Regions from separate parts of the Homo sapiens genome. Here regions 2 and 3 are each linked to region 1. The links come from fine-mapping of genetic effects on gene expression. A gene starts in region 1. Each other region holds a variant in brackets. All regions are shown on one strand. Distances are between the middles of the regions. Region 1 holds the start of IPPK (inositol-pentakisphosphate 2-kinase). Region 2 overlaps IARS1 (isoleucyl-tRNA synthetase 1). Region 3 has its middle 29 kb from the start of BICD2.

Region 1 (10,902 bases):
AGCTGTATGGTTTTTCTGAGTATGTCACCATTCAGCAATTCTGAGACTCATCTGGGAACTTGTTAGAAATGCGGAGGCCATCCTGAAGTGTCCCAAGCTGAAAACCAAGTCCTGTCATCACTCCTCCTGTCTGTATGAACACCCTGTACCTATCTCTGAGTATTTAAGGGAGAGTTCCATAGGATTAAATTTCTAGCTGTGGAGATGAGTCAAGTGAGATTAGTGGCATTAATTTTAATAATATGGCCAAACTGAACTTTAACATTGCAATGCCTCCCCACCCTCACCAGCAGTGCATATGTGTGCTGTCTGTCCCCTCCCCATCACCCATGGCAAACACTGCCTAAGACTGTTTCACCACACTGATATATGAGACACTTCATTATTTGTTTTTTGTCTGTTTTTGAGACAGAGTCTTGCTATCACCCAGGCTGGAGTGCAGTGGTGCGATCTCGGCTCACTGCAACCTCCGCCTCCTGGGTTCAAGCAATTCTCCTGCCTCAGCCTCCCAAGTAGCTGGGATTACAGGTGCCCGCCACCAAGCCTGACTAGTTTTTGTATTTTTAGTAGAGTTGGAGTTTCACCATGTTGGCCAGGCTGGTCTTGAACTCCTGACTTCAAGCGATCCACTCACCTGGGCCTCCCAAAGTGTTGGGATTACAGGCGTGAGCCACTGTGCCTGGCCGACACTTCATTATTTGAATTTCAATTAATTATGAAAGGAGCTGAACAATGAGTGTCTTCTTTTTCTGTAAATGAACTTTTTATTTTGGGATTAGATTTACACAAATGTTGTAAAGGTAGTACAGAGTTCCTATGTGCTCTTCACCAGCCGCCCCCAAAGTGAATACACATAACTGGCACATGCCCAAACAAAACAACTTACATTAGTACACTACTATTAACTAAACTTTAGGTTTTATTTGGATTTTACCTGTTTTCCCATCAATGTCTGTTTCTGTTCCAGGATCCAATCCAAGATCCCACATTGCATTGAGTCATCATGTCTCCTTAGGGTTCCCTGATCTGTGACACTTCTTCAGTTTATCCTTGTCTTCCATGACCATGGCAGTTTTGAAGTCCTGGTTAGACTGGGTCAGTCTCCCGTTCCCCCAGATCCTTCCTTCTCCTGGTCCGTGTCTCAGTATGAACTGTGTGAACTGTGTGAATTGTCCCTCAATTTGGGTTTGTTTAATGTTTTCTAATGATTAGAAAGGGCTTATGGGTTGGGGGGAAACGCCACAGAGGTGAAGTGCCTTCTCATCATGCCATGCCATATCGTGGCAACGCATGGTATCACATACTTTCTTAGTAAGGAAAATTCCGAACACACATAAAAATAGCAAGAGTAGAGTAAGAACTCATTACTTGGTACTCCACAATTACCAATGCTTTTCCACCCTGTTTCTGGATACTTTTCTTTTTCTTTTTTTTCCAGACGGAGTCTCACTCTATCGCCCAGGTTGGAGTGCAGTGGCACAATCTCAGCTCACTGTAACCTCTGCCTCCTGGGTTCAAGCTATTCTCCTGCCTCAGCCTCCCAAGTAGCTGGGACTACAGGTGCCTGCCACCACGCCCGGCTAATTTTTGTATTTTTAGTAGAGACAGGGTTTCACCATATTGGCCAGGATGGTCTCGATCTCCTGACCTTGTGATCCGCCCGCCTCATCCTCCCACAGTGCTGGGATTACAGGCGTGAGCCACCGTGCCCGGCCCTGGATAGCTTTTCAATATGGTTAGAAGACATTTTCATTTTACTTTTCTGTTCTCTTCTCCATCCTTCCTTCTTCCCTCCCTTCCTCTATCTTTCCTTTTTAACACAAAAGGAGAAAGCACTAACAGTGTTGGCAATCTATATGGGACCTAGATAGAAGAGCATAACACATCTAATTAAATTGCTCCCTCTCTTGGCTCAGACTGCCATGACAAAATACCATAGGCTGTATAGCTTAAACGACAGACATGTGTTTCTCATGGTTCTTTTCCAGCCTTCTTTTCTTCCAGCCTCCTCAGATGGGAACCCTCTCCTCTGCATTCCCACTGTTCGTCCCCATATTTGTTTCTTTTTTCTTTTTGAGACGGAGTCTTGCTGTCACCCAGGCTGGAGTGCAGTGGCAGGATCTCAGCTCACTGCAGCCCCACCTCCTGGATTGATGCAGTTCTCCAGCTTCAGCCTCCCAAGTAGCTGAGATTACAGGCACACGCCACCACATCCAACTAATTTTTGTATTTTTAGTAGAGACGGGGTTTCACCATGTTGGCCAGGCTGGTCTTGAACTTCTAGCCTCAGGTGATCCGGCCATCTCGGCCTCCCAAAGTGCTGGGATTACAGGCGGGAGCCACCGCGACCGGCCCCCTATACTTCTTTCAAAGCACCCGAGTTCAGGAGGGGAAATGGCATGGTCTGCCCAGGTGCTGTTGCCTGTGAATTTAAAAAGAATGATAAAACCAAATTTGGATTTAAAAAACCTTTTTTTCAGACAACATCTGGCTCTGTCACCCAGACTGGAGTGCAGTGGTGTGCTCTCAGCTCACTGCAACCTCCACTTCCTGGGCTCAAACAATCCTCCAACCTCAGTCTCCTGAGTAGCTGGAACTACAGGTGTGTACCACCATGCCCAGCTAATTTTTTTGTTATTTTTTGTAGAGATGGGTTTCACCATGTTGGCCAGGCTGGTCTTGAACTCCTGAACTCAAAGTGATCCACTCACCTGGGCCTCCCAAAGTGTTGTAATTACAGGCGTGAGCCACCATCCCCAGCATGAATCTGCTTTTTATCATCACCATATAATGGCAATTTTAAAGTATCAGGGATATAATACACCTCCATGGGGGAAAAAATCAAGATACAGAACATTTCTAGCACCTTAGAGGTTTCAAGGAAATATTTTAATGCTTAATATATTATTTAATCTCACCCCAACTCTCCTTTTTGCAGGGTGCTGAGGAACTCAACTGCAGTCATGTTTAAGCTTCCCTGGCCTTGTGGGGGCGTGGGAAGGACTGAATTTTGTGAGCCCTAAGGTCCTCTCTCTCTGTTGGGAGCTACTTACCTCCAGGAGTGGCTGTTTCTGCCCCCATTTCTCAACCATCCCTGTGGAGGGTCCTGAGCCACCTCCCACCCAGCTTCCCCACCACCCCCCCCCCACCGCCTCCTTTTTTCTCTTTCAGACGGAGTCTTGCTCTGTTGCCCAGGCTGGAATGCAGTGGCACGATCTGGGCTCACTGCAACCTCTACCTCCCGGGTTCAAGTAATTCTCCTGCCTCAGCCTCCCGAGTAGCTGGGATTGCAGGCGTGCACCACACACCCAGCTAATTTTTGTATTTTTAGTAGAGATGGGGTTTCACCATATTGGCCAGGCTGGTCTCAAACTCCTGACCTCATGATCCACCGCCTTGGCCTCCCAAAGTGCTGGGATTACAGGCGTGAGCCACCACACCCAGCCTCCCCCACTTTTTTTTTTTGAGACAGAATCTTGCTTTGTCACCCAGGCTAGAGTGCAGTGGCTTGATCACGGCTCACTGCAGCCTCAACCTCCCGGGCACAAGCGATCCTCCCGCCTCAGCCCCTCAGCCCTACAAGTAGCTGGGGCTACAGGCACAGATACCACACCCTGCTAATTTTTTGTAGAGACAGGGTTTCACCATGTTGCCAGGCTGGTTTGGAATTCCTAAGCTCAAGCGATCCGCCCACCTCGGCCTCCCAGAATGCTGGGATTACAGGCATGAGTCACCATGCCCTGCCCCAGCCTCCCTTTTGAGGCCTAAAATGGAGGAAAGAGATGCTCAAAGCCTTCAGCTCATTTTCCTGAGTCACTGGCCTGATTTCACTACAATTCCCAAGGCCTGGCAAGGTGCCCAGCCGTTCTCAAAGTTGGGTCTGCAGGTCCTCTCTTTGTGAACTACATAACTGCAGATGTTCTTCACAATGTGTATGTCAACCAATGCAATATATTGCAGCAGACCGAATGCCGAAGCACATGTGAGAACCTATTAGGTCAGATTTTAAAAAGATTTGCAAAAGTGTAAAACAATACCACTCCTTTATTTTGGTGGTGGGCGTGGAATGTAATGTTTACTTTTTTTTTTTTTTTTTTTTTTGAGATGGAGTCTCACTCTGTCGTCCACGCTGGAGTGCAATGGCGCGATCTTGGCTTACCGCAACCTCCGCCTCCTGGGTTCAAATGATTCTCTTGCCTCAGCCTCCGGAGTAGCTGGGATTACAGGCCTGCGCCACCATACCTGGCTCATTTTTGTATTTTTAGTAGAGACAGGGTTTCACCATGTTGGCCAGGCTGGTCTCAAACTCCTGACCTCAGGTGATACGCCCGCCTCAGCCTCCCAAAGTGCTGGGATTACAGGCGTGAGCTACCGCGCCCGGCTGTTTACTTTTAAACGAAACAACAAAAAACTTTAAAGCATTTTAACTTAGAATGTGGTAACATCGATAGCTGTAACCCACATTAGCAAAAGCTTGGGGCCCTCATTTTTATGAGTATAAAGTGGTCCTGAGACTACGAGTTTGGGAAATGCGGTAGCTCTACGAGGCGGTGCCATTCTTGCCGCCGCATCAGTGAATTTAGGAGAAGGAAGGTCGTTAGCCCTCTGCCTCACCGCCAAGCAGGAGCCTTGCGCTCCAACTGCGTCCCTCGAAGTCTTCAGGCAAAAGCGGGACTGGGGAGTCCAGTCCTGTGGCCCAGCCACATTTCCTCGCGTAGAACGTTGGACAATGTTTTCTACCTCACAGGACCATCCAAATGACTGCGTTAGGTATTCCCATGAAATGTACGATGAGTACACCCTATTCTACAGAAGCAAAAGCTGAGGCTCAGAGACGCCAAGAGGTTTGCTGGGGTCTCGCGACTAAGCGGTCCCAACACCCAGACACCCTGGCTACCCGGGGACTGCCGGTCACTACCGGGCGCCGAAAAGCCGCCGGCTCCTTCCGCCAGCTACACATCCGGCGCCGAGGCCGGAAGCTTCTCTTCCGGCTCCCAAGACCGCGTTCCGGAAATGAGTCGCTCTACCAGTACCTAAGATGGCCGCCGGCCCATCCACCGTCGCGATCGGTGTGAGGAAAGTGTCACGAACCCGGAATTGCCCGACTCCGTCATGGCAGGCGCCGGGGGCGTGGCTTCCGGCGGCCACAGCTTGCTAGTCGCCGCGGCGGGGTCGAGCGGGGGCGGCAGCTGACAGGCGCTCCTCCCCCGACCGCAGCGGCTGGTTCCCAGCGAGGCGGGCGGCCCCCAGCTCGCGTCCCCGAGTCCTAGCCCGCGAGGCGCCAGGGCTGCGCCTGGGCATGGAAGAGGGGAAGATGGACGAGAATGAATGGGGGTACCACGGAGAGGGCAATAAGAGCCTGGTGGTGGCCCACGCGCAGGTGAGCGGTGGACGTGCGGCGCAGGTCCGGTACCTCACTCCGACGGCCGGTATCACCCCGCCCCCATTATCCGTTTCCTCAACAGGGTCGGTTCCACGTCCCCCCAGTACCTTCCTCCTCCCCGGCCGGTCTCCGGAATTCCCCCACCCTCCAGCATCCCCCCCTACCGCTTGGGTTCCTCATCACCCCAGTATCCCCTCTCTACTGGGTCAGTCTCCCATTGCCCCAGATCCTTCTCCTGGCCGGTCTGTCGTCCCCTCAGTATTCCCGTTCCCCGTCAGAGTCAGTTCCACATCCCCCTCCCCGCCCCGTCGGTGCCGCGCTCAGCCTCACGCGGTGCCGCCTCCCGCCTGGATGCCCGCCGGACTGCCAGGCCGCAGTGGGGTGGAGGCTTGGTTGGGACGGAGGGCCCGGCCAGCACTGGAGGAAGAAGCAGAGTGCCCACAGTGCTGTTACTCTCAGCACCAAAAGAGTTCAGCCTCGTGAGACTACGGAATTGCTGTGCTGTTAATAGTAAGGGGATGTTGTCCACAGGTCCTCTTCTCAACCTTTTAGAATTTGAAGGCTTTCACCTGAATTCAACGAGGGTGAAAGTTTTAGAAACTGCAGTAAGATCTCGCAAAGGTGAATCCCAAGAGTGAAGCGTGTGGGTTTCTGTGAGGGCCCAGATCTCTCTGACCTTTTGCTGTCTGGTACAACCACGCAGGAATGTGGCCGGCTGGAACGGGGGAGGGGGGTGAGGGAGGCGAGGATAGGTGTCATGTAGGGAGGAGTTAGAGCATGGGTGTTAAAGGCACAGGAATCTCAGTGTCTACATTTGTGAAGTGGAACTAGTAGTAGAATTCACTTTGTGGGATTGTTGCAAAGACCAGTTACGCAGGAACCCATCAAGTTATGCTTAGCAAGTGATAATTGTCATCCCTTGGACAGATAAATAAAGTGAAAATCAGAGAGGTTAAGGGCATTGCCCGAGTCGAACAGCTTGTCAGGGATGATGTAGGCAGTGGAGTCCTGCCTTGCTTCTGTTGTTCCTATGCTGGGTGCATTGGTCAGCTGTAGTGTAAGCTGCAAACACCCAGGTAGCCCCTAGGTTGTGCCTTTGGATTTTGTTGCTCATTAGCACAGGGAACTAAAGAACAGAGACTACAAGCTTTGCTCAAGATCTTTAGGTGAATTAATAATGGACCAGGCTAACCTAAAGCTGTCCTTCTCTTGTGTAGTCCACTATTGGCAAAGTGAGGGATGTTTCTGCGTGAGTCCTTTTGTTGTTGGGTTACTGTGCTGATCCCCTGAATCCTTTCCCAAAACAAATACTAATCTTCCAATTCCTTGGTAAGATTAGATGTATCTCTGCATTTTAGGTAAACCTAAGACTTTTCTTTAGTGAGGGCTGATACATTAAATTTCAAAAGTAGTGGCAGATGAAGCAGCAAGTTTCAGGCTTGGAGCAAAAGGACACCCATGTTGAAAGAGCAGAGGCTTTGACGCAGTTGCCTCTGGCACTTGGATCTCTCTGCACGTTCCAGACAAGTATGTGTCCACCCCCTTCCCTGAGTAGGCATCTCCAGGGCAGCCTGGCCCTACCCTGTTGCACAGCTCTGATTGTAATGATTGTTTATTTTTATTTATTTATTTATTTAGAAACGGGGTCTCACTCTGTTGCCCAGGCTGGAGTGCAGTGGCGCGATCTCGGCTCACTGCAACCTCCGCCTCCCAGGTTCAAGCGATTTTCCTGCCTCAGCCTCCCGAGTAGCTGGGATCACAGGCATGCGCTACCGTGCCCAGCTAATTTTTGTATTTTTAGTAGAGATGAGGTTTCACCGTGTTGACCAGGCTGGTCTCCAACTCCTAACCTCAAGTGACACCCACCTCAGCCTCCCAAAGTGCTGGGATTACAGGCGTGAGCCACCACGCCAGGTTGATTGTTTATTTTTTCTTTCACCTTTTCAAATTTACCTACAGCCACCAGGCTGTTCTAGACCTATGCTATTCATTCTTTTTTTTTGAGACGGAGTCTTGCTCTGTCTCCCAGGCTGGACTGCAGTGGCGCAATCTTGGTTCACTGCAACCTCTGCCTCCTGGGTTCAAGCAATTCTCCTGCCTCAGCCTCCCAAGTAGCTGGAATTACAGGTGCCTGCCACCATGCCTGGCTAATTTTTTTGTATTTCACCACGTTAGCCAGACTGGTTTCAAACTCCTGACCTCAAATGACCCGCCCGCCTCAGCCTCCCAGAGTGCTGGGATTACAGGTGTGAGCCACTGTACTCAGCCTCATTTTTTATTTTAAATCTAAACTTGCTTTACTGTGCTCATTCCTGCTTGGTTGTTGTTTTTAGCTCATCATTTGAAATTGAAGATTATCACTGCACATAGTCTCATGAGAAAATGTTTCCCATCAAGTTAAGGTCAGATGGAGCCTGTGCCTGATGTGGTAACCTGAACCAAGCCTAGCCCACCAGCTCTGCCCTGTGGCCTGTTTGCTCAGGCTGTGGACCGAGGAGGAGAGAGAGCAATTCCCAGAAGGCAGCTTTTTAGGACCTGTTGAGTTCGAGCAGAGGGTGTGTGTCAGTGGGATAAGAGATGGGTGAGGTAGAATAGGAGGAGTCCGTGGTCTTGTGGATGCTGAGCATGCGCCCAGCCTCCTTCCAGCCGGGTGTGGGAGCAGGTGGACCCTGCTACTGTACTCCTTAGATCCACCTCATTCAGTCCAAGAGAGAGGGAGGCCTTTGCCAAGTTTTTCCAGGTAAGGAGAGGGTTGCTTTCTCTGAGAGGACATCAGCTTCTCTCAGAATTGAAAGGTCCCTAATGAGTCCTGTGCTGACCCCCATCCCCTCTACCATGAGAACATGATGCGCCTTCAGCCAGCCTGAGCTCGTCCTGCAGGAGCCGAGGGCCTAGGTAAGGAGATCTGCATGGTCATTGGCTGTCAGCACTAGAAGGAGCACAGTGATGTTCTTCCTGCAGTATGCAAACATGGGATGAGAGAGAGCCTTCTGTGCAGCGCAGGACTTGTAGGAAATGAGGCCTGGGGATGGAGGAACTAGGTGTGGGCTACAGGAGGGTGGGAGGTTGTGCCCAGGGTGGGCAGGAAGGTAAATAGCAGGCCAGCCATAGAGAGGCGTTTAAAGGTGTTCCTGACAGAAGGTGGTCAGCTTCCCCAAGGCCCTTCCACTCAGAGACGGCCCAGGATGATTCTCATTTTGCCTGTCAGTTTGCATTCTGCCTCTGTTTGGGATGGTTGTGCACCTGAACTTTCCCAGGCACAGGTAACCATGGTGTTCTCTGCCTCATGTGGTGTGGACCCTGTGGCATGCTTGAGAGGCTCTCGGCAGCCTGGCATGTTCCCTGGTGTGTGTCTGGAGCTCCAGACACTGACCCTGTGGGGGCTCCTTGATGAGGGAACTTCCCATCTGGGCACAGTTTCCTCGCTGCAGCCTGAAGGTGCAGTACTTGGGCCAGTGGCCACATCTCAGGTTAGTGAAGTCCACAGGTTGCCCCTTTATGCACTGCCGCAGGATTTCTCTCCTGTGTGACGCCTGCGCCTGCCTCCTTCGCCTTCAGCTTGTTGGTTTTGGCTCAGTGTCCTGTCCTATGAAGGTCACTTTAGGTTTGGTTTGTCATTCCATCTCCTAGGTGTCTTCAGATCTGGATCATGCACTTGTCTGGGGCACTGAGCCCCTTCCGGACCACCTCAGCCTTGGGGAGCAGGGGCAGAAGGTGGCCCACTCCTGTCATGACACTAAGCTGTCATGATGTTTTCCTTCTTACTGACAGAGGTGACAGGAAAGACTTTGCCATTTAGTTGGCTTACCAGCCAACTAAATTGATCACATGTGTGGACAAAGCTGCTCACTTCCAGTTGTTCCAGTTTCGTGACCTTTCTGAGAGTCTGAGAGCTTCAGATCATTTCTGCAAATTGTTTTGTTGCCTGGGGAGTTTTGGTGTCCCTTTGGTACCTGTTTAGTGCTTGGGATATTTGTCTGGGCATTGAAGGTGTGAAGCTCAAGCGGTCAGGTGCCCTTCTACTGTTTCTCTTCTCATCTTGTGTTTTAAGATTTCTGGTTCATAGATCATATATATATGTATTTTTTTTGCCATACAGCATGATTTTGTATATTTTAATAATTTAAATGATTATTTTGTAGTGGATGAATTAAGTCCTTTATATGAGGATGTGTTTACAGTTACGTAGAAAAAGCAGGTTACAAAAGAAGATGCATGATGTGGTTATAATTACAAAATGATTAGAAGAAAATAGATGAAAATGTTCTAAGTGGCTGTAACTGATAGTATCACGAATCACTTTTACTTTTTTTTGTTTTTTAAATATTTTCTGAATTTCCTACAATGGATATGTATGATACTCAGGAAAAAAGATTAATTTTTAAAAAGTTTATACTCTTTGATTTACTAATTTCTGTTCTAGTAGTCCGTTCTAAGGAGATAATTAGAAACGTAAATAAAGATCTTATACACAAAGATATCCATTACAGAATCACTTAGAACAGGTTAAGTGGAAAGCCATTGTGCAGTCCTGCAGGACTGTTAACTGGGCCATACTTCCTACTGTGGATGCTGAAAGCACATACGTTTATGTTCTCTGTTTTTTTCTGACTGTATAACATGTGCCCAAGCCCTTGGTCGCTCCCTTTTACAATTTTTAGCTGGACCTAGTTGAAATAGTCTTAGCTTTCTGTTACTGCTAGCATTTTGTTTAAACTAGTGATGTATTCTGCATTTGGGATTTTTAGTGGCGCTCTAGGCTGACGCAGCTGATGTGGCTTCTTTCCTGGTGATGTTCCTTCTTGTCTCATTTGAGCTCATTGGAGAGCTGTGCTTGTGGCTCGCTCTTTGTTTATTCCTTTCTTTGTATCTGCAGTTGCGTGATGAGGTCTGCTGTTTGGTGACTGCAGCCTGTGACAGTGCCTCTCGTGCACGGGGGTTTGTTGGTTTGGCCTTGGCTCACCTCCTACTTTTACACCTTCTGAGGTCACACAGCCACTTTTCTTCTGCCTGACTGAGCCTCCTTCTGCATCAGAATTCAGTCAGAGCAAAGCTCCCCAGTGACTTCCTGTGTCTTCTGAGAGCTGCGATCCAGGAGGGTGAGAAAAGCATCATTACTGTGTCTGCAGAGAGCAAGGCTGTGCCTAGGGCCCGGCCACTCCTGCCTTGTTGCCAAGCGGTTGGGAGATCTGAGGGCCCGGACTTGCTCACAGTTCCCTGTGGCCCTCACTGTGGGCCTCTAGGCAGCCCTGCTTCCCCTTTACAGGCAGTGAGGCTTTCCATGCCTATAGGGGTCAGCCCCATGCACGAGGTGTGCCTATCCCCACAGGCCTCCCCATGTTCTGAGAGTTGTGTGGGTGTGTGACCTCCCCCATGGCCCACACCTGTGCCTGCTTCAGTCCTGCAGAGGACACCATGAGGTCAGGACGGAGTTGCCGAGGCTTGAGGACATGCCCCATACAGGTTGGACAAGGGGCCAGCACTTACTGCGCCCTGACCCCAGGCTGTCTCCAGTCTGG
Region 2 (10,902 bases), 460 kb after region 1:
ACACTGACTTCCACAATGGTTGAACTAGTTTACAGTCCCACCAACAGTGTAAAAGTGTTCCTATTTCTCCACATCCTCTCCAGCACCTGTTGTTTCCTGACTTTTGAATGATTGCCATTCTAACTGGTGTGAGATGGTATCTCATTGTGGTTTTGATTTGCATTTCTCTGATGGCCAGTGATGATGAGCATTTTTTCATGTGTTTTTTGGCTGCATACATGTCTTCTTTTGAGAAGTGTCTGTTCATGTCCTTTGCCCACTTTTTGATGGGGTTGTTTGTTTTTTCTTGTAAATTTGTTTGAGTTCATTGTAGATTCTGGATATTAGCCCTTTGTCAGATGAGTAGGTTGCGAAAATTTTCTCCCATTCTGTAGGTTGCCTGTTCACTCTGATGGTAGTTTCTTTTGCTGTGCAGAAGCTCTTTAGTTTAATTAGATCCCATTTGTCAATTTTGTCTTTTGTTGCCATTGCTTTTGGTGTTTTAGACATGAAGTCCTTGCCCATGCCTATGTCCTGAATGGTAATGCCTAGGTTTTCTTCTAGGGTTTTTATGGTTTTAGGTCTAATGTTTAAGTCTTTAATCCATCTTGATTTTTGTATAAGGTGTAAGGAAGGGATCCAGTTTCAGCTTTCTACATACGGCTAGCCAGTTTTCCCAGCACCATTTATTAAATAGGGAATCCTTTCCCCATTGCTTGTTTTTCTCAGGTTTGTCAAAGATCAGATAGTTGTAGATACGTGGCGTTATTTCTGAGGGGCTCTGTTCTGTTCCATTGATCTATATCTCTATTTTGGTACCAGTACCATGCTGTTTTGGTTACTGTAGCCTTGTAGTATAGTTTGAAGTCAGGTAGTGTGATGCCTCCAGCCTTGTTCTTTTGGCTTAGGATTGACTTGGCGTTGCGGGCTCCTTTTTGGTTCCATATGAACTTTAAAGTAGTTTTTTCCAATTCTGTGAAGAAAGGCATTGGTAGCTTGATGGGGATGGCATTGAATCTATAAATTACCTTGGGCAGTATGACCATTTTCACGATATTGATTCTTCCTACCCATGAGCATGGAATGTTCTTCCATTTGTTTGTATCCTCTTTTATTTCCTTGAGCAGTGGTTTGTAGTTCTCCTTGAAGAGGTCCTTCACATCCCTTGTAAGTTGGATTCCTAGGTATTTTATTCTCTTTGAAGCAATTGTGAATGGGAGTTCACTCATGATTTGGCTGTTTGTCTGTTATTGGTGTATAAGAATGCTTGTGATTTTTGTACATTGATTTTGTATCCTGAGACTTTGCTGAAGTTGCTTATCAGCTTAAGGAGATTTTGGGCTGAGACAATGGGGTTTTCTAGATATACAATCATGTCATCTGCAAACAGGGACAATTTGACTTCCTCTTTTCCTAATTGAATACCCTTTATTTCCTTCTCCTGCCTAATTGCCCTGGCCAGAACTTCCAACACTATGTTGAATAGGAGTGGTGAGAGAGGGCATCCCTGTCTTGTGCCAGTTTTCCAAGGGAATGCTTCCAGTTTTTGCCCATTCAGTATGATATTGGCTGTGGGTTTGTCATAGATAGCTCTTATTATTTTGAAATATGTCCCATCAATACCTAATTTATTGAGAGTTTTTAGCATGAAGGGTTGTTGAATTTTGTCAAAGGCTTTTTCTGCATCTATTGAGATAATCATGTGGTTTTTGTCTTTGGCTCTGTTTATATGCTGGATTACATTTACTGATTTGCGTATATTGAACCAGCCTTGCATCCCAGGGATGAAGCCCACTTGATCATGGTGGATAAGCTTTTTAATGTGCTGCTGGATTCGTTTTGCCAGTATTTTATTGAGGATTTTTGCATCAATGTTCATCAAGGATATTGGTCTAAAATTCTCTTTTTTGGTTGTGTCTCTGCCTGGCTTTGGTATCAGAATGATGCTGGCCTCATAAAAGGAGTTAGGGAGGATTCCCTCTTTTTCTGTTGATTGGAATAGTTTCAGAAGGAATGGTACCAGTTCCTCCTTGTACCTCTGGTAGAATTCGGCTGTGAATCCATCTGGTCCTGGACTCTTTTTGGTTGGTAAGCTATTGATTATTGCCACAATTTCAGAGTCTGTTATTGGTCTATTCAGAGATTCAACTTCTTCCTGGTTTAGTCTTGGGAGAATGTATGTGTCGAGGAATTTATCCATTTCTTCTAGATTTTCTAGTTTATTTGCGTAGAGGTGTTTGTAGTATTCTCTGATGGTAGTTTGTATTTCTGTGGGATCGGTGGTGATATCCCCTTTATCATTTTGTATTGCGTCTATTTGATTCTGCTCTCTTTTTTTCTTTATTAGTCTTGCTAGTGGTCTGTCAATTTTGTTGATCCTTTCAAAAAACCAGCTCCTGGATTCATTAATTTTTTGAAGGGTTTTTTGTGTCTCTATTTCCTTCAGTTCTGCTCTGATTTTAGTTATTTCTTGCCTTCTGCTAGCTTTTGAATGTGTTTGCTCTTGCTTTTCTAGTTCTTTTAATTGTGATGTTAGGGTGTCAATTTTGGATCTTTCCTGCTTTCTCTTGTGGGCATTTAGTGCTATAAATTTCCCTCTACACACTGCTTTGAATGCGTCTCAGAGATTCTGGTATGTTGTGTCTTTGTTCTCATTGGTTTCAAAGAACATCTTTATTTCTGCCTTCATTTTGTTATGTACCCATTAGTCATTCAGGAGCAGGTTGTTCAGTTTCCATGTAGTTGAGCGGTTTTGAGTGAGATTCTTAATCCTGAGTTCTAGTTTGATTGCACTGTGGTCTGAGAGACAGTTTGTTATAATTTCTGTTCTTTTACATTTGCTGAGGAGAGCTTTACTTCCAAGTATGTGGTCAATTTTGGAATAGGTGTGGTGTGGTGCTGAAAAAAATGTATATTCTGTTAATTTGGGGTGGAGAGTTCTGTAGATGTCTACTAGGTCCGCTTGGTGCAGAGCTGAGTTCAATTCCTGGGTATCCTTGTTGACTTTCTGTCTCGTTGATCTGTCTAATGTTGACAGTGGGGTGTTAAAGTCTCCCATTATTAATGTGTGGGAGTCTAAGTCTCTTTGTAGGTCACTCAGGACTTGCTTTATGAATCTGGGTGCTCCTGTATTGGGTGCATATATATTTAGGATAGTTAGCTCTTCTTGTTGAATTGATCCCTTTACCATTATGTAATGGCCTTCTTTGTCTCTTTTGATCTTTGTTGGTTTAAAGTCTGTTTTATCCGAGACTAGGATTGCAACCCCTGCCTTTTTTTGTTTTCCATTTGCTTGGTAGATCTTCCTCCATCCTTTTATTTTGAGCCTATGTGTGTCTCTGCACATGAGATGGGTTTCCTGAATACAGCACACTGATGGGTCTTGACTCTTTATCCAATTTGCCAGTCTGTGTCTTTTAATTGGAGCATTTAGTCCATTTACATTTAAAGTTAATATTGTTATGTGTGAATTTGATCCTGTCATTATGATGTTAGCTGTTTATTTTGCTCGTTAGTTGATGTAGTTTCTTCCTAGTCTCGATGGTCTTTACATTTTGGCATGATTTTGCAGCAGCTGGTACCGGTTGTTCCTTTCCATGTTTAGCGCTTCCTTCAGGAGCTCTTTTAGGGCAGGCCTGGTGGTGACAAAATCTCTCAGCATTTGCTTGTCTGTAAAGTATTTTATTTCTCCTTCTCTTATGAAGCTTAGTTTGGCTGGATATGAAATTCTGGGTTGAAAATTCTTTTCTTTAAGAATGTTGAATATTGGCCCCCACTCTCTTCTGGCTTGTAGGGTTTCTGCCGAGAGATCTGCTGTTAGTCTGATGGGCTTCCCTTTGTGGGTAACCCGACCTTTCTCTCTGGCTGCCCTTAACATTTTTTCCTTCATTTCAACTTTGGTGAATCTGACAATTATGTGTCTTGGAGTTGCTCTTCTCGAGGAGTATCTTTGTGGCGTTCTCTGTATTTCCTGAATCTGAACGTTGGCCTGCCTCGCTAGATAGGGGAAGTTCTCCTGGATAATATCCTGCAGAGTGTTTTCCAACTTGGTTCCATTCTCCCCATCACTTTCAGGTACACCAGTCAGACGTAGATTTGGTCTTTTCACATAGTCCCATATTTCTTGGAGGCTTTACTCATTTCGTTTTATTCTTTTTTCTCTAAACTTCCCTTCTCGCTTCATTTCATTCATTTCATCTTCCATCGCTGATATTCTTTCTTCCAGTTGATCGCATCGGCTCCTGAGGCTTCTGCATTCTTCACGTAGTTCTCGAGCCTTGGTTTTCAGCTCCATCAGCTCCTTTAAGCACTTCTCTGTATTGGTTATTCTAGTTATACATTCTTCTAAATTTTTTTCAAAGTTTTCAACTTCTTTGCCTTTGGTTTGTATGTCCTCCCATAGCTCAGAGTAATTTGATCGTCTGAAGCCCTCTTCTCTCAGCTCGTCAAAGTCATTCTCCATCCAGCTTTGTTCCGTTGCTGGTGAGGAACTGTGTTCCTTTGGAGGAGGAGAGGCACTCTGCTTTTTAGAGTTTCCAGTTTTTCTGTTCTGTTTTTTCCCCATCTTTGTGGTTTTATCTACTTTTGGTCTTTGATGATGGTGACGTACAGATGGGTTTTTGGTGTGGATGTCCTTTCTGTTTGTTAGTTTTCCTTCTGACAGACAGGACCCTCAACTGCAAGTCTGTTGGAATACCCTGCCGTGTGAGGTATCAGTGTGCCCCTGCTGGGGGGTGCCTCCCAGATAGGCTGCTCGGGGGTCAGGGGTCAGGGACCCACTTGAGGAGGCAGTCTGCCCGTTCTCAGATCTCCAGCTGCATGCTGGGAGAACCACTGCTCTCTTCAAAGCTGTCAGACAGGGACATTTAAGTCTGCAGAGGTTACTGCTGTCTTTTTGTTTGTCTGTGCCCTGCCCCCAGAGGTGGAGCCTACAGAGGCATGCAGGCCTCCTTGAGCTGTGGTGGGCTCCACCCAATTCGAGCTTCCCGGCT[G/A]CTTTGTTTACCTAAGCAAGCCTGGGCAATGGCGGGCGCCCCTCCCCCAGCCTTGCTGCCGCCTTGCAGTTTGATCTCAGACTGCTATGCTAGCAATCAGCGAGACTCCGTGGGCGTAGGACCCTCCGAGCTAGGTGCGGGGTATAATCTCGTGGTGCGCCGTTTTTTAAGCCCATCGGAAAAGCGCAGTATTCGGGTGGGAGTGACCCAATTTTCCAGGTGCCGTCCGTCACCCCTTTCTTTGACTCGGAAAGGGAACTCCCTGACCCCTTGCACTTCCCAAGTGAGGCAATGCCTCGCCCTGCTTCGGCTCGCGCACGGTGCGTGCACCCACTGACCTGCGCCCACTGTCTGGCACTCCCTAGTGAGATGAACCCGGTACCTCAGATGGAAATTCAGAAATCACTGTCTTCTGCATCGCTCACCCTGGGAGTTGTAGACCGGAGCTGTTCCTATTTGGCCATCTTGGCTCCTCCCCCAATTTTTGTAATTTTAGTAGAGACAGGGTTTCACCATGTTGGCCAGGCTGGTCTCAAACTCCTGACCTCAGGTGATCCACCCACTTGGGCCTCCCAAAGTGCTGGGATTACGGGGGTGAGCCACCACACCCAGACCATTCTATTCTTTGAGTTTCCGTCTTTCTGTTTACATTGCCCGTCTGCTCTGCTTGTTCTGTTATGTTTCTGTTGAAGCCCAGTTTTAAGAAGCATACGTCTAGTTCCTTGGAGACACTGACAACCCAGACACACTTTAAACTCAATCATTTTGGACCATAGGGAGAATGTTAAGAAAGCTGTGACTGGGTCTGCGTGGTGGCTCACTCGTGTAATCCCAGCACTTTGGGAGGCTGAGGTGGGCAGAGTTCAAGACCAGCATGGCCAATATGGTGAAACCCCATCTCTACTAAAATTAGCTGGACATGGTGGCACATGCCTGTAATCCCAGCTACTTGGGAGGCTGAGGCAGGAGAATCTCTTGAACCTGGGAGGCAGAGGTTGCAGTGTGCTGAGATTGCATCACTGCACTCCAGCCTGGGCGACAAGAGTTAAACTCCATCTCAGAAAAAAAATCTATGGCATTCCCAGTCATACACAAAGGCCAGGAGTTGTGATGGAGACAGGATCTGTCTATCCCTACTCCAAAACAAAGCTAAGTGAGGTGATTTTCTCTGTATTGGTTTCTGTGGCTGCTGCAACAAATTTCCACAAATGGGATGGCTCAAGTCATCTCACAGCTCTGGAGGCCAGACACTGAAATTAGGGTGTCAGAAAGGCCACAGTCTCTCTGAAGGCTCTGTGGGAGAATTCCTTATATACTTCTTCTAGCTTATGGTGGCGCCAGGCATCCCTTGACTTGTGGCCACATCACTTCAGTCTCTGACTCCGTGGTCACATTGCCTCCTTCTCTTCTGTTTCCTCTTTTTCCAAATAAAGTGAACATTCACAGCTCCTGGGAATTTAGAACCTGGGCATATCTTTGGAAGGCCATTATTAACCGATTACATTCTCTTCACTTTTTCTCTTGTGGTGAAGGAACTTACTCAAATTAACCCTTTTGCTATGGGTTTCTTATTTGAAGTTCCAGTTTCTTCAGCAGAGATTTGTTGGACTTCCCGGTTTGTATATACCGGAGGCTTTTCTTTCCCTGCTTTCCTAGCTCTTTAGTGCCAAAAGCATTAAGCCACCAGACCCCATGGGAGTCATTATTTTTGGCCTCTGTGTAATTCTCCCGTTTTCTTCCTGTGCAGCTTTTTTTTTTAAATTTAGTTGCATATCGTACTTTTAAATTTTCTGTCATGATGTTAAATACTAAAGCTCTATTTCTTCTTGGGTTCCTCCTTCCCTCCCTGGGTTTATTTTCAGTGACTCTCCTTTGTCGTTTTCCCTCTCATCTCATCATTGGGCCTCATCATCCATCTAAGTCACCAGTCTGCAGTCTGTACTCTTCACCAGAGCTATCTTCATGAACATTCCTGCCTTGATTTTGTTCCCTTGCTTAGAGCCCCCAAAGCTCCTTATTCTCTTATGCCTCAGAATCTTCCCTTCCACACAAGATCCTTCCTGCTCTGGGCCTTCCCTGTCTTGCTAATTCTGTCCATGAGTCTTTCACTCTATCAAAGGCTTTTTTCACTCTCCCTCGAACACACTTGGCTCTTTCATTGTGGTATGGTAGTAAAGATCATCTAATAATGTAGCTTTCTATTTTGATAAGCTTATATAAAACTTTAGAGATAATTCTTAACTCTTCTTGTCCCTCAAATCCTTTGGTCACCAAGTACTGTTGTGCAGTGGAGCTGAAGATGACATTTATCTCTCACTTGTTCTTGCAAGCAAATGCAGTGGCATGATTGAACCTGGTCAGGGGTAGAACCATGTCTGTATGAATTATGTATTTATAATACTACCTGCAATTCACAGAACCATTCTTAACCTGTGCTGCCTTTCTGTATTCTCTTTACTCTGTGACGTTAGTTAGGCAAAAGTTTAGTGGGTGAGAACTTTTAAATGTTTAGTGATTTATCTAAGATTACCACAAAGTTGGAACTTTTTCTAATTCAGTATCTTTCCAATCTAGTATCTATAGCTTCGTTTTCATTATGCCTTTTCTCTCAGAATTGTCTTTCATAAAGTATCAATAACTTGGTAAATTAGAAGAGCCACAAAATGTTGACCATTTTAGAAACCCTTAGATGTCTTCTTGCTTGCTCCACTAAACTCTAAACATCATCTCCAGGTCCTGTAATTATCTATTAAGGAAGTAGCTTTGAGAGTATTCTCACATCTAGGATTGCTGCTAGGTAGGACAAGAGCTATTTTTAAAGGAAGCTCATCTGTTTGCTTTAAATTCAGATCTGACTAGAAGCAAAATGCTCCACAGTAGGCAGATAACTTTAAATTTTCTTTTTTTTTGTTTTTGAGTTGTATATTCAGTATATTTCAATCAATTGCATTTGGGTTATATTTTTGGATGCTCAGAGTTTTCGTCATTGGCCATATTGGATCCTGTATTCTTTAACATGATCCTTTGTCTTTGGTAAATTCTTGCTTTCTCACGTAGCAACATGTCCTAGGCTTATTATGTACTTTTACTTCTCCAGACGTAGAAAATAGCTGTTCTTCAAATTATAGAGAATCATATTTTGAAACCACATATCTGGGATACTGAGTTGGCACAGCCTCTAGGCTTTTTTTGTAGACATAGGAAGTATCTGTGTATGAGGAAAAATAACCATCTTGGCAGTACCCAGAGTTAGCCAAACTGTGAAGTGATGGCATAGTCCTCCAGAAGGCTCCAGGAGTCTGCCCGATATCTAACTCCACCTGCAAGGAGTGAGGATTCTACTCAGGGAAAGATCCACACAAGACCCCCATCACTGCTGGCACCAACTGCAAGTTCCAGGGATTTTCCTAAACCACCCTCAGGTTCAGTAACCTGCTAGGAGGACTCAGACTCACTAAAAGGTATTACACTCATGGTTTGAATTAGGGTAGGGAAAGGATACACGTTAGAACCAGCGAGAGTGAGAGAGAGAGAGAGACCCTGGAGTCATGGATAATGTTTCTTCCTCTCATCCCTTACATCTGACAACACAGAGACTATATTACCAACCAGGGAAGCTCACTCGAGCCTTGGTGTCCAGTTTCTGTTGAGGTTTCATTCTGTAGGCATGATTGCTGTCTTTCTCAACTGATATACCATGTGACCCAAAGTCCCCATCCTAAATCATATACTTGGTCTTTCTGTCCTGGCCAGCACTACCCTGAATTGTCTCATTAGCAACAACTGTCAGGTTTGGTGAACATACCCACCATGAGAAACAAAGATTCCTACCAGGAAATTCCAAGGATTTAGAGGTTCACCTCAGGAGCTGGGACAAAAGGCAGAACTCTTAGGATAAGGCCAAATTCCTTACTACACAAGCAGTTAACATTTTTTTAAATATTCACCCCCAATAGGTAAAATACTGATTTTTTTTCAACTTTTTCTTTCCATTCTAGAAATTACAGAAGACATCCCCGTGAAGACTTTGAATATGAAGACTGTGTATGTTTCTGTGTTACCAACAACAGCAGACTTCTAGCATGTACTTATCAATGTTGTTCGGTCAGCCCTTCCCTAATTACACCTATCCCCTACACATACATGCACATAGACACACACATGAACACACTGAAGATATTTCCTTCAGGTGTGTGTAAAATATGCTGCTTGGATTGAAATTCAAATGGGATTGATTAGTCAAGTAACTTGAGACCTCACAGTAATCTTCACACTTAACCTTAGACACCTATGCAGTCATGTTGGGAGCAGGTTACAATGTTACTTCAGCCCACAGTTTATTTCTATACTTGAGTTCTTAAGTACAGAAGATAGAAGTGATTTAAATGGCATAGTATATATATCATTTTCTGGCCTTTTAAAATTTATTTGAGACCTCTTGATGAAATGGACATATTATATATTTCTGCCACCTGGATTTTCCTGGATAATTTGATGGAATATTTTAAGTTTCAGTAAATCAGAACAATAAACAAACTCAGATATAAATGTGTTGAAAGTAATTCATTCTCCCATAGATAAATGAAACTTGAAATGTGTAAACTTTGAAGAACATAAAAACTTCATGGTGGTTTCTTATTAAGACAGTGGACTAGACATCTAATAAAACTTCTTTCCAAAATCCCAGGTGATAATTTGAGTCCTCAGAGAAGCAGATGACATGACAAAGTTAGATGTGCAAGAATTTATTAGAGGAAACATAAATGGAGGATAAACGGGAGATGGAGCAAGCGTAGGTCGAGAGAGCCTTCAGACTGCAGTGTGGGTCTGACACCTGTAAAAAGAGAAAATGAAGATTGATTAGCAAAAACTTAGACTGCAGTGCAACTCTAAGATGAAGTCTTGGTCAGGCCAATGGAGAGTTCCCAAGCAAGGATTCCTTTTAGTAGAGTTCAGAATTGGGCAGAAATAGCCTGGCTTTGTTTCTCTGACTTCCTCAAGTCAGTTTCTGGGAGGAGACCAAGGGGAGCGTGGCCTTCGCACAAATGCCTTGATGGATCTGAAAGTACCAACTACACTCCTCATGTCAGATTCTTTTGAAGGGAGATCTGAATGATACATCCCTATGGCTACTACAACAGATGCATTCACACAAAAACCCACAAGTTGGAGAAAATAGAGGAAACAACCAGAACTTGGGGAATTGGAAAGCAGATAGACGGTGTTAACTAACTTGGTAGACCCAGGAAACCCCAATTCTAAATCAATGGAGGAACTGATAAACTTACTTACATTTCAGAATTCACAGCACCAGTTAACCTCTGGGATGAAAGGTAGAAGAGGCACAGAAATAGGGACGATTGCGTGAACACTGGGAAGCCTTATAGCTTCTCCCATTTCCACGTTGCTAAGCAACTTTATTCCCCCCACAGTTGGCATCTGGAAGGTAAAAAGTGACTGGTTGGTAGAAGTCGGAGTGAATGGAAGACAAGAGTACTTGTAAGCCTGGAGGATTCCTAAAACCAACCCTCAGCTTAGATAATTTGCTAGAAAGACTCAGAACTCAATGAAAGCTATTGTATTCGTGGTTACAGTTAATGACAGGGAAATGTTAAAGATCAAAATCAGCCAAAGGAAGAGGAGAGGGCAGAGCCCGGGAGAAGTACCAAACACAGCTCTTGTCCTGTCTCTCTGAAGTCAGCAAGCATTACTCTACTGGCATCAGTGTGTGACAGTATGCACAGAGTATTGCCAGCCAGGGAAGCTCACCCAAGCCTTGGAACCCAGAGTGTTTACTGAGGCTGCTTTACATATCCATGATTGATTGTCCATGTGGTTAATCGCAGTCTCTAGGTCAGCTGCTCGTGCATGACCCAAAACCTCCACCCTAAATCACATTGTTGGTATTTCTGATGTGTTGTACACCCCCCCC
Region 3 (10,902 bases), 120 kb before region 1:
AGCCAGAGGATAAAGCACTCATGGTACAAAACATTGCTCCAAAAATGTAATTCTCTGCAAGCCTGACTGCTGGAACTGCTTGTTGCCACCTGAGACCAGTTTTATCCTTAGCTTCTGAGATAACTTGCTACAACTCTGTGACTAATTTTTCCCACCACCTTTGCTCATCATTCAGAGCTTGCCAGCTCCCCAAACCCTTCCTAGTGCCAATGAACTTACTCAAAGAGGAATACATAACATTTCTCCTTGTTATAAAACCTCTAATCTTCTCTTTGTTCTTCAAAGAGAGCACTTTCGGTTCTTACCAGAGATGATCTCTCCCTGGTTTGCAAACTGATATTGCCAATAAAACTCTGTTTTCTACTCTCTAGCCATTCTGGTGGTCCTTTGGATAACATATGCCTTGCTGCAGTAAGGACTGGAAGTGTATTTCCCCCTCCCATGGAGAACAAGACCTCATACATGAGAACTTGGAGCTACTCCTCCTCTCATCGGGAATGTGACATCACAGCTTATCAGACCCCGTATGGGTTACTGAGCTCGACTACTGGACTCCCAAGTCCAATAAACCTAAGAGTTTGACAGACATTTTAAGAGCTTAGGTCATGGCAGGGTTTACTCTGTCAGCCATTCTCCGATGACCAGGAGCTTGTGCTGTGAGAGGGCTGCACTGTCCACCACTTCTCCCCAACTTCCCTCTAGTATCCAGGGACCACCCCGGCCTTCTCCAGTCTCCACTGTGATGGCCAAGCCAGTTTCCCTCAAGAACTGCTAATATAAAGGAACACCTCAAGCTTTAATTAGAAGTTACTTCCCACAGAGACTTTCATCCTAACGGAGCAACTAGACTTTAATAATTGAGGACCTCACTGATCTGTGGTCAGTGTGCCTCATCTCTCAAGTGGATTCCCTGGGAGATTTGTTCACCATGTTATCTTCTTTAAGCGTTCTGAACCTAAGAAAAAAATTCTCTTTGCATGGGGATGAACCACAGATCCATGAAATCATATTTCGATCATCTCTTTGTTTTAACCATGCAAAAACACCTTTGCGGTTCCTTCCCCTACTGGCTTGAGCCTTGGCTTTTTTCTGTTTTTCAACAAGTGGAGGCTCAGAAGTCCCCGAGCAGGAAGGTGCCCATAGCCCGCCGCATGCCCAGCCTCACTGTGCTCTGCCCCAGGGCTGCACCTCCTCTGCTTCGCCCAGCACCTGGAATGTCCCTCCTTCTGAACAACGCCAAGGCTGTGTCTGTGCAGCTGCCCCGCCCGCTGCCCCTAAGGGCTCCTATAAGGCCTGTGCATCCCTCTGCCCTGGCGCTGGGGCACCGCCTTGCGTCAAACCCCATATTGTCTTCTCTCCCTCTAGAGAGTTAGCTTTCAGGGAGGACAGAAAGATGGAAAGGTAAAAATATTGCTGTTTGCTGTAAATAGTACATTGTGAAGGAACAAAAACATGCCTTACAAAAAACACAATTGTACCAAAACAGAGACAAAAGGTGGGCTGGATTGTTTCCCAAGGATCCTTTCATTTTTAATGTTCATTGTTTCACTCTTAGATGCACTGCTAGTTATATCACAGTTCAACATGCACTTTATAAAGCTGGTTTTTTTGTCATTGAACATGTTTTGAAAAATGTACAATGATCACAGACACCCTTTTGCTGGAGGCTCTCTCTAGGGTCTTATTCCATGTTTCTTTGTAGATAATGATAGTACAGTATGTTTATTTCTCATGGGTTGTGAGGAGACTAAATGATTAAATATATGTAAGTGCCTGGGACAAAATTTGGCACCTGCATGCCCTAAATAAAAGCTTATTAACTAAATACATGGATTTGGAATTATTGGCTCCATTCTATGTAATTATTCCTGACCCAGAATGTCTTAAGAAATATAGTCCCTGGACCTACCTCTGGCAACCACTGCCGCTCATCACTCATCCCTTTTGTCTGCCTCATTTTAGTTACTAATGGGTGCACCTGGGTTTGGGGATCAGGGAAGACAGTGGACATGGACTCGTACCAATACCTGGACTCTTCACACACCAAATCCTGGGGGCCAGGCACTGTTGTAGGTGCCAGATATTTAATTCACATCACAGATGTGCCATGTAAGTACAACTATTTCCCCTATTTTATGACAAGGAAATTCAGACCCAGGCAGCTTAAATAACTTTCCTAAGTTATTCCCCTACCACTGCCACCCACCCCCAACGAACCCCAGCTCAAGCCTAGGCTGTCAGGGTTTGTGTTATTAACTGTGTGCTTGAATCCAAGAAGCCCAGGGGTCCTGCCTGTGTCAACAGCCTGGGAGCACAGCGACATGAGCTCAGAACCAGGAATCATCATCAAGTCTGTGTTCCTTTTTCCCAGGCATCTGACACATGGTCAGTTGGGCCAGAGACAGGAGAGGAACTTCTAGAGTTACTTAGCAGAACGGAGGCTGGAGACAGGTTGGCCCTGACATCACAGGGGCTGTTCTCTTTCCTACTGGTGTCTCCCTCCTGGGAAAATTGTGGGTGACAGTCATGGTGACAGTACCTGGGATCTTAGTCAAGCGTCCTATATGGAGTTCTGAGTCTCCTTTGACAGAGTGTCCCGGCATCCTTCATCTGTGATCATGGTGACAGAGTCCCACTCTTTTGTCTCACGGATACTGCTCCTGTGCAGAGGGCGTCACAAAGCTCACTCTGTTGTACATACAGCTGGATGATAGAGAATTTCATTAGTTTGTTTCTAAAGAAATACTAGAAAACAGATTGAATTAGAAAAAATTGGAAGTGGAAAGAGGATTTTTCTAGAGTTGACATTTTTACAAGAATCTAAGCATTGGTATCTAGGGGGGAGAAAGCCCAGAGTAATAACTTACTTAACTGTTGCAAATTGGAATAATGCTAATTAGATTTCATGTGTTGCTCATGATGTTTATTGCTGAAACGTCCATTACCCTGCTGATTCTGGCAGTGAAATAAACATTAGAATTTTTCAACAGCTGTAGTGTAAAATTTTAGAAATTGGACTATGAGTAGCACAATTGGGGTTTACTGTTTTGGATTACCAAAGTGTTTAGCCTTTGCCATTCAGGGTGATTGTGTGGAAGCAGAGGCTGTGTGGGTGGAAGTCACGGCAGACGCTTCCCTGTGGGGCTGGAACCTGGAGGCTGCTCTGCAGGGGGCTGTGAGCATCCCTCCTCGTGAAGCCATGGGTGGCTATTAGGTAATGCAGCAGTTGCAAATAAGAGCCAGGGTGTCCTGGTGACTGCTGCACCTTGCCCCTAGTAGGAAATGCTGCTGCCTCTGAGCAGGGCTCAGGGGCTGTGAGCAGTGATTGGCAGCGGCAGGGCTGTGCAGCCTGAGCTCCTGATTCCTCGGACCCACGTGCACACCTGGAGAATGGCGTGCGCTTCACCTCCTGAGCACCAAGGCCCCTCCTTCGTAAGGATTTACCCCATTCATGTGAGCCCCAGGAAGAGTGATGCATTTTCAGATGTTTTTAGAGAGAGGGCTCGTGGAGCACTAATCAGAGCTGTCTATGTTTGAGGATGTTGTTATGGATACATTCATTTTTCAGGATGAAAGTCCACGCTTTCCTCACACAGCAGTCCCTGATGGTTCTCCCTCTGTTCAGGGCCTTCATTACCATGTCTGGCACGACCCTGATGCAAATGAAACATTTCCAAGAACAAGGAGCTATAACAGGAACTCAAATGTTGCATTTATAATGATTCCCACTTCGGCTTTTTGACTTTAGAGTGCAAAGAAAAATGTGCAATTTCTTATTTGGGCAAAAACAAAATAAAATAAACAATGAATGCAAATTCCAAATCAGAGTCTGTTACTGTGAAGTATAGGGCTCTTAAAGGAAACAATCTAACTCTAAAAATGGAACAAACCAGAGCAGCTGCCCTGAAGAATCAAGGTGGTTTCCACCCAAGCTCCACCTGACGCTTGTGAATGGAGAAACCAACGACACCCGTGAGCACAGACCTGCTCTCAGGGAGGGATTTTACCTTCATCTGCACAAAGCACACTGCGTAGATCCATGGGGGCTCATTGGCACTAAATAGAAAAATAGATCCCTTCTGCCTCGTTCCAGTTCACACCCATGTAGCCACAGAGCTGGCAAGAAGAATAAAAGAAAGTTTTAATCTATCCCATTCTCAGTCTCACTGCATTGACATTTATTAACCAACTCCATTACTAAGTATACACTCCAACATTTGCAAAATGCTGACTACATTATGTGCTCTACAGTGCCAGAAGTTAGTTCATTAAAATCTGAATTTAAATTCTATGTCCATTTAGAAACTATTTGTATTATATTCTTCTGTAATTGGTTAATACTTATGAGTCTAAACGCAGGAATATGGATTTTTCAATGAACTTTAAATAACCTTATTGATTAAAGTCAAAGTAATGTTTGCTTAGAAATTACAGGATTAGATTTCATTATTATTTAATTTACTTATTTTTAACTCCTGGCTTGTCAGGAAGATGGCAAAAGTTGATGTGTTCCCTTTTTCCTATACTATGCTATGAAACATGGAATGTGTCATTCTTATCTTACTAAAAATGCAGTGTTGCATCACACTGCAGTATGGTCATGGCACAATTTAGCTTCATCACAGAATAAATCAGTCATAATTTAAGTGCCATTTGCTATGCCTTTCCAATAGAATCCGCCGGTGTTCACATGGCAGATATTATTATGACCAGGCATCATTACAACTGGCCATGACAGGCCAGGCGTGGTGGCTCACGCCTGCAATCCCAGCACTTTGGGAGGCCAAGGTGGGCGGATCATGAGGTCAGGAGTTCAAGACCAGCCTGGCCAATATGGTGAAACCCCATCTGTACTAAAAAATACAAAAATTAGCCGGGCATGGTGGTGAGCGCCTGTAGTCCCAGCTACTCGGGAGGCTAAGGCAGAAGAATCTCTTGGACCTGGGAGGTGGAGGCTGCAGTGAGCGGAGATCATGCCACTGCACTCCAGCCTGGGAGACAGGGCAAGACTCCATCTCAAAAAAAAAAAAAAAACGATTGACCATGACTCGGTAATTCCTGGGCTTCAAAGTCAGTCGCCTTGTCTTAGTTCACAGGCTTGTATTGCAGGACTGGCTTCTGTTATATAGCAGGGCTCACATACTCTCTCCTACAGGGATGTAGGTGGTATTCAGACTAGTTCCTTTTCCTGCTGATTATACTACAGGATGTGGGTTATCCAGAGCAGAGTGCATTGGTCGAAGTTGCAAGAGCTCTCAGAGAGCTTCCATAGGTTTGGAGACCCATACGATTCCCACAGGTGGGCCCCTTGAGCCTCAGCAACCAGGACAGAGGGCCACTGCCCCACGGCCACTTTGGCCTCCATCTGTAACAAAATAGTCAAGTAACCCTGTTGGATCTAGGGAGAAGCCCTTTCCCAACACTGGGTGCTAGCTTTACCCAACGTTACCCAACCCACTTCACCGAAGCCTCATTGTCCTCCCAGGCTGACTCCCACCCCTTGCTCCCTTTAATCTGCTTATTTTTTTCAATAAATTTTTCCCCACTGAGTGCTACTCTTCATCAAAAGCAAATTCAGGCCGGGTGCGGTGGCTCACACTTGGAATCCCAGCACTTTGGGAGGCCAAGGTGGGCGGATCATTTGAGGTCAGGAGTTTGAGACCAGCCTGACCAACATGGTGAAACCCCATCGCTACTAAATACAAAAATTATCTGGGCGTGATGGCGGGTGTCTGTAATCCCAGCTACTCGGGAGGCTGAGGCAGGAGAATAGCTTGAACCCAGGAGGCAGAGGTTGCAGACAGCCAAGATTGCGCCACTGCACTCCAGCCTGGGCAACAAGAGTGAGATTCCCCCTCAAAAAAAAAAAAAAAAAGCAAATTCAGCTCATCCCATGAAGCCGAGGCCAGCACCCGTCTCCCCTAAGGCCCTTTTCTGTCTGGTGGGCCAGTGTTCAGGCCACCATGCATGCTGTTGCCACTGTGTCCTCGTGGCTGAGCGCAGTTAGGATACATGTTTCATTACTCAAAAGTATTGGGTTTCCCCATACTTGCATTTTGTAAGTCGTGGTCACACCTCATTGTCATTTAGTCTGAATATGTCATAGAGGTTTCCATTGTCTT[A/C]CTTGTGCATGGAGGGGCTGCTCCCTTGGGGAATTTGGACCCACCGGGTGATGCCTACTGCTTTAGTTCCATCACCATCCCAGTGGTTTTTCCTGGTTTGTGTAAGAGCTTTCCATTCACAGAACAGGGTGGTTTGTGTCTGTGCACAACACACTGTGGCATGTTGGACAGGCCACCATTCTATGTCGTCCAAGATAACCAGGGAGAACTTTGTAAGCCTCTGATCACCTGGGTTTATAGTTACACAGGAGTCAGTCAACCAGCAATCATACACTACACAGTCTGATGCCCCAATAGGGAGTAGTTCCCAAAAAACCCTTCCCAAAAGATACCCTTTGTTGTAGATGTACCCTGAAAAGTCAGAGTTGAAAGATGCTAGAGTTCCACTTGGTCATCGTCGTGTGACCACAGTGTCTCTGACAGTGATGTCACTAGGTTTGCAGGTTGCTATTCGACCTTGTCAGATTCCTAAAACAGGGATGGTTTGACAAACACACAAGTTTACCCTTTCAGGCATCTGGTATAACTGTGCTAAGAGACAATATAATTCCCTTGCTCTGAGCTTACCTCGAGGCACCAATATATTGTTGGGTTTCTCTCATTGCATAACCCATTTATTCATTCCTTTGCCCTCAGCTACTATTTCTCCTTCTCTCCATTTGTCATTGATTTTCACCCAACTTTCACACCTTTAGAAAGGATGAAGGGATGTTAGGTTCATCCACTGTGTAGGCCCAGATGGCCAGCAGTGTAGGCCCAGATGGCCAGCAGCAATACCACTTCAGCAGGTGCCTCCCGCAGGGCCATTTCCAGTCATGTAAGGTAGGGCTGCAAAGAGACGAACTGTGAGGCTGCCCTGACCACCAGGAGATACAGCTGCACTCACTGTCCACCTCTGATTTGCCAGATGCAGTGGAGGCACAGCTATCCCATCAGACCTTTAGGATTTCTGACACAAATGTTAAAAGATATAACAACTGTTTCTCACTTAAGAATCATTCCTGCCTCTGGCCGGGTGCGGTGGCTCATGCCTGTAATCCCAGCACTTTGGGAGGCCAAGGCCGGCGGATCACAAGATCAGGAGTTCGAGACCAGTCTGACCAACATGGTGAAACCCTGTCTCTACTAAAAATACAAAAATTAGCTAGGTGTGGTAGTGTGAGCTTTACCTACCCAGTGGCAGATGCTTCCAACACTTGCAGCTGTGGGCCTGATCTCAGGCTCTTTTCAGCAGGTAGGAGACAAGAAAGTTGAGGTGCTGTTGTGAAGAACTGCATAGTCGTAGCAGCATCCTTCCCGGCCATCTTCCCCAGATCACCCCAAGAGTGGAGGGATCTATCTAGTGGGGATCCTCCTTGACCACCACATGTTAAGTGTGAGCACACATGCATGGAGGTGTGTAAGCCTTCACGCTTTTATCTCTCCCCATGTAAGATAACAAACATTTCCATTGCCCATTTCAATTCTCTCACAAACTACTCTGAGGATAATGTGCAGCATGATATACCCATTTGATGGGATGTCTCCTTGCCCTGTGTAGGTTGTAAAGTGTGTTCCTTGGTCCGAAGGTATGTAACTTAGTGACACACATTGATACAGTGACTTCTGCTCAGTACTTTTATAGTATCTTGAGCATTTGCATCTGCCACTGGGTAGGTAAAGCTCAGTCCAGAGTAAGTGTCTATTCCTGCCAGAACCCATTTATAAACTCCCTCCAGGGCTACCAGCAGGGGTCCCGTACAGTCCACCTGCCAGCTGCATGTGCGGTGTTCTCCCTCTGGGGAATCTGCCCCTTAGCCACCTGTGGTCTCCATCTTCTTGTTGTCAAGGCATTTCTTGTTGGCATTTGTGTCTCTGAGGGTGCAGGAGGGACATGTTTCTGAGCAGCCCATCCCTGCACTGTCACCCACTCCTTTGTTGAACCTAGGTGGCCACCTCAAGTTTGTTCACCAGGATATCCACCTACCGGATCTGATCACAGATCCTGGGAGGGATTCTTCAGGTGGGCATTGATATGACCTACTTTAATGTGCCCCTTAAATTCCTGCAGTGCTGTGCTCCATGTTGGCATCCCTTCACAGCCCAGTTTGCCATTGCCCCTCTGCCTGGTCACATGGCCAGGCCATTGGCCACTGCCCATGAGTCAGTAAAAACCCAAACACGAGCTCTTATGATTGTTCCATTCTTTCATCGCAGCAAGAAACGCAGCATGCAGTTCATCTAGCTGGGCTGATTTGTTCTTGCCTTTTTCAATATGAGTTTTCCCATTATTGCTCATGATGTGGTGGCCTTCAGATCTGGATGTTGTCCATCCACCTTGAAACTGCCAACCACAAACCAAATAGCTCTTTGTTGTCCATTGAGAGCTGTTCATGGGGCACCATCCATGATGCCATAGACCTGGCAGATCCTCAGCTGGTTCCGAAACCGGCCAGAGGGGAAAAGCCCTCCTTGCATTCCTCTGTATCATGCTCCTGTAGAAACCATTTCCGTTTTATTATGGAACTCTTCTGAGCAGTGCCTTCCTTATTGAACTGTATCTCTGCCATCCCCCAAGACAACATGTGTATTTCAGGCTTTAAGATGAGAGTATGTCCTTCAGTCTTAGGGGCAGTTTCAATTAATGCCCAATCGCAAGCTACTACCTACCAGGTCTGGGGATTTCCTGGTCCAAAATCCCAGTGGTCACCACTGGGTGGCACTCATGCATAATGTTATTGCACAGAGACCACAGTACCAGGATTCCAGCCTCCAACAGGTTATTAAAGTGAAAGTCTCTTTGCCCACCAAGCATTTTACACTTTTTCAAATTAACAACCTGTCTGGGCTCAGGCCCGTGGGTTCCCATTTAGCGTGTCCAATTAATATGGGCCAAAGGGCAAACGTCCGTGCCTTCTGCTTCACAATACTAGATACAGACCTGTTCCCCAGTCGGACATAATACCCATCCTGTTAACACATTCAGGTAAAGGAGGTGCAACCACTTCACATAAAGTCCATTCAAAATTCCTATTTTCTTCCATATTTTCACCTTAATTACATCAACCCATCAACCATTGAGATCGTGAGAGTAGGGCCTTAATGATGATGTGGAGGTTCACACCTGTAATCCCAGCACTTTGGGAGACAGAGGTGGGTGGATCACTTGAGGCCAGGAGTTTGAGACCAGCCTGGCCAACATGGCAAAATCCCGTCTTTACTAAAAATACAGGCCGGGCACAGTGGCTCAAGCCTGTAATCCCAGCACTTTGGGAGGCCCAGGTGGGTGGACCAAGAGGTCAGGAGATCAAGACCATCCTGGCTAACACAGTGAAACCCCATCTCTACTAAAAATACAAAAAAATTAGTCGGGCATGGTGGCAGGCACCTGTAGTCCTAGCTACTCGGGAGGCTGAGGCAGGAGTGTGGTGTGAACCCCAGAGGTGGAGCTTGCAGTGAGGCTAGATCATGCCACTGTGCTCCAGCCTGGGCAACAGAGAGAGACTCTATCAAAAAAAAAACAGAAAACAAAAATTAGCCAGGTGTGGTGGTGCACACCTGTAATTCCAGCTACTTGGGAGGCTGAGGCACAAGAATTGCTTGAGCCAAGGAGGCATAGGTTGCGGTGAGCTGAGATCATGCCACTGCACTCCAGCGGGACACAGAGTGAGACTCTGTCTCACTAAATAAATAAATAATGATTTTTTTTTAAACGAGGGGATTAGTGTCCTTATAAGAAGAGCGACACACCTGAGAGCTAGCATGCTGGTGCCCGAGCTCTCTCTCACTCAACCCATTGTGAAGACACAGTGAGAAAGCTGCCACTACAAGCCAAGCAGAGAGCCCTCACCAGAACCCGACCTTGCTGGCACCTTGATCTTGAACTTCCATCCTCCAGAACTGCAAGGGAGTAAATTTCTTTTGTTTAAGCGCAGCATGTGGTATTTTGTTATAGCAGCCTCAACTGATGACACATGTTTACACCATCTGACCTAGGTTTGGGTTGACCCCAGAAGACCAAATTCGACTGGCTGGGACTGAGAAGGGAAGAGAGCAAAGTCCAGTATGAAACCTAAATTCTAAGATGACTTTAACTCTTAACAGTTTACTTCATTACTTAATAGGAAAAACGTAAACTCCTAAAGTTGTCTTACATCTGAATTTTGGGAGATGGAATGACATGTAGTGAAGGTGAGGGATCCTCCCGTTTCTACTTAAAACATTAAGGCCATTCAGTGGCTTTAATGAAAAGACTAGGCAAGCTTTCAACTTAGACACTGTCTTTCTCACAAGTTCTGCTAAAATTTCCTATTAATATGTTCAGTGTCTGAATTGAATTTTGTGTTAGCCCACATGGTACCTTCTCATTGTTTTCAGTATTCAGCAAGTGGCCCACTTGACAGCTTCTTTCCATCTAGAAGCTTCACTTTCTCTCTACTTTCCAAAATCTAGACAGGAAAGTTAACTCATAAAATCTAAAAATGATTTTAAAATCTTGTCACTGGTAGACAGAGAGAGCACTACCTACCATCCTAAAATGGTACAAAGACTGCTCCTTTTAGTTTTTCTTTGTAAATATCTGTGGTCTTCAAAAATAGATCATATTTCAGCTACACATATTAACACCCACACAAAAACATTACATTTTATTTTAGCTTAAAAGTGAGCATACTATATGGACTTTTAAAATAATACAGCATGAAGTCTTACTTTTCCCCACCATGATCCACTTCAAAGCCATCTGTAATGTGTCAGCCACTTCTGTGAGGTCAGCCATATGTGCATTACATGAAACATGCTT

The links. PIP is the estimated chance that this variant, and not a neighbour inherited with it, causes the effect.
Region 2: its variant is fine-mapped to the expression of IPPK in whole blood (TOPMed, PIP above 0.99). The same link has a PIP of 0.9 or more in blood mononuclear cells.
Region 3: its variant is fine-mapped to the expression of IPPK in fibroblasts (GTEx, PIP 0.99).

Annotation. Positions count from the first base shown.
Region 1 is chr9:92,664,386-92,675,287 of GRCh38, reverse strand. It overlaps IPPK (inositol-pentakisphosphate 2-kinase), which reads left to right and starts at 5,157. Exons shown (of 13, transcript NM_022755.6): 1 at 5,157-5,380. The coding sequence starts at 5,300. LOC107987095 (a long non-coding RNA gene) reads right to left here and starts at 4,926. Exons shown (of 2, transcript XR_001746837.2): 1 at 4,615-4,926; 2 at 742-2,422. RefSeq lists enhancers at 3,160-3,329, 3,587-3,881, 4,636-4,685, 4,696-5,145, 5,886-6,055 and a silencer at 5,186-5,365.
Region 2 is chr9:92,208,956-92,219,857 of GRCh38, reverse strand. IARS1 (isoleucyl-tRNA synthetase 1) reads left to right here. Exons shown (of 34, transcript NM_002161.6): 34 at 8,969-9,651. The coding sequence ends at 9,051. It overlaps LOC112268048 (a long non-coding RNA gene), which reads right to left and starts at 10,409. Exons shown (of 2, transcript XR_002956919.2): 1 at 10,263-10,409; 2 at 9,700-9,804. RefSeq lists an enhancer at 4,587-5,483. The variant G/A (reference allele first, on the strand shown) is at 4,971.
Region 3 is chr9:92,788,878-92,799,779 of GRCh38, reverse strand. No RefSeq gene overlaps it. Among named protein-coding and RNA genes, the nearest start is that of BICD2, 29 kb to the right of the region's middle. RefSeq lists enhancers at 713-1,213, 1,214-1,714. The variant A/C (reference allele first, on the strand shown) is at 6,123.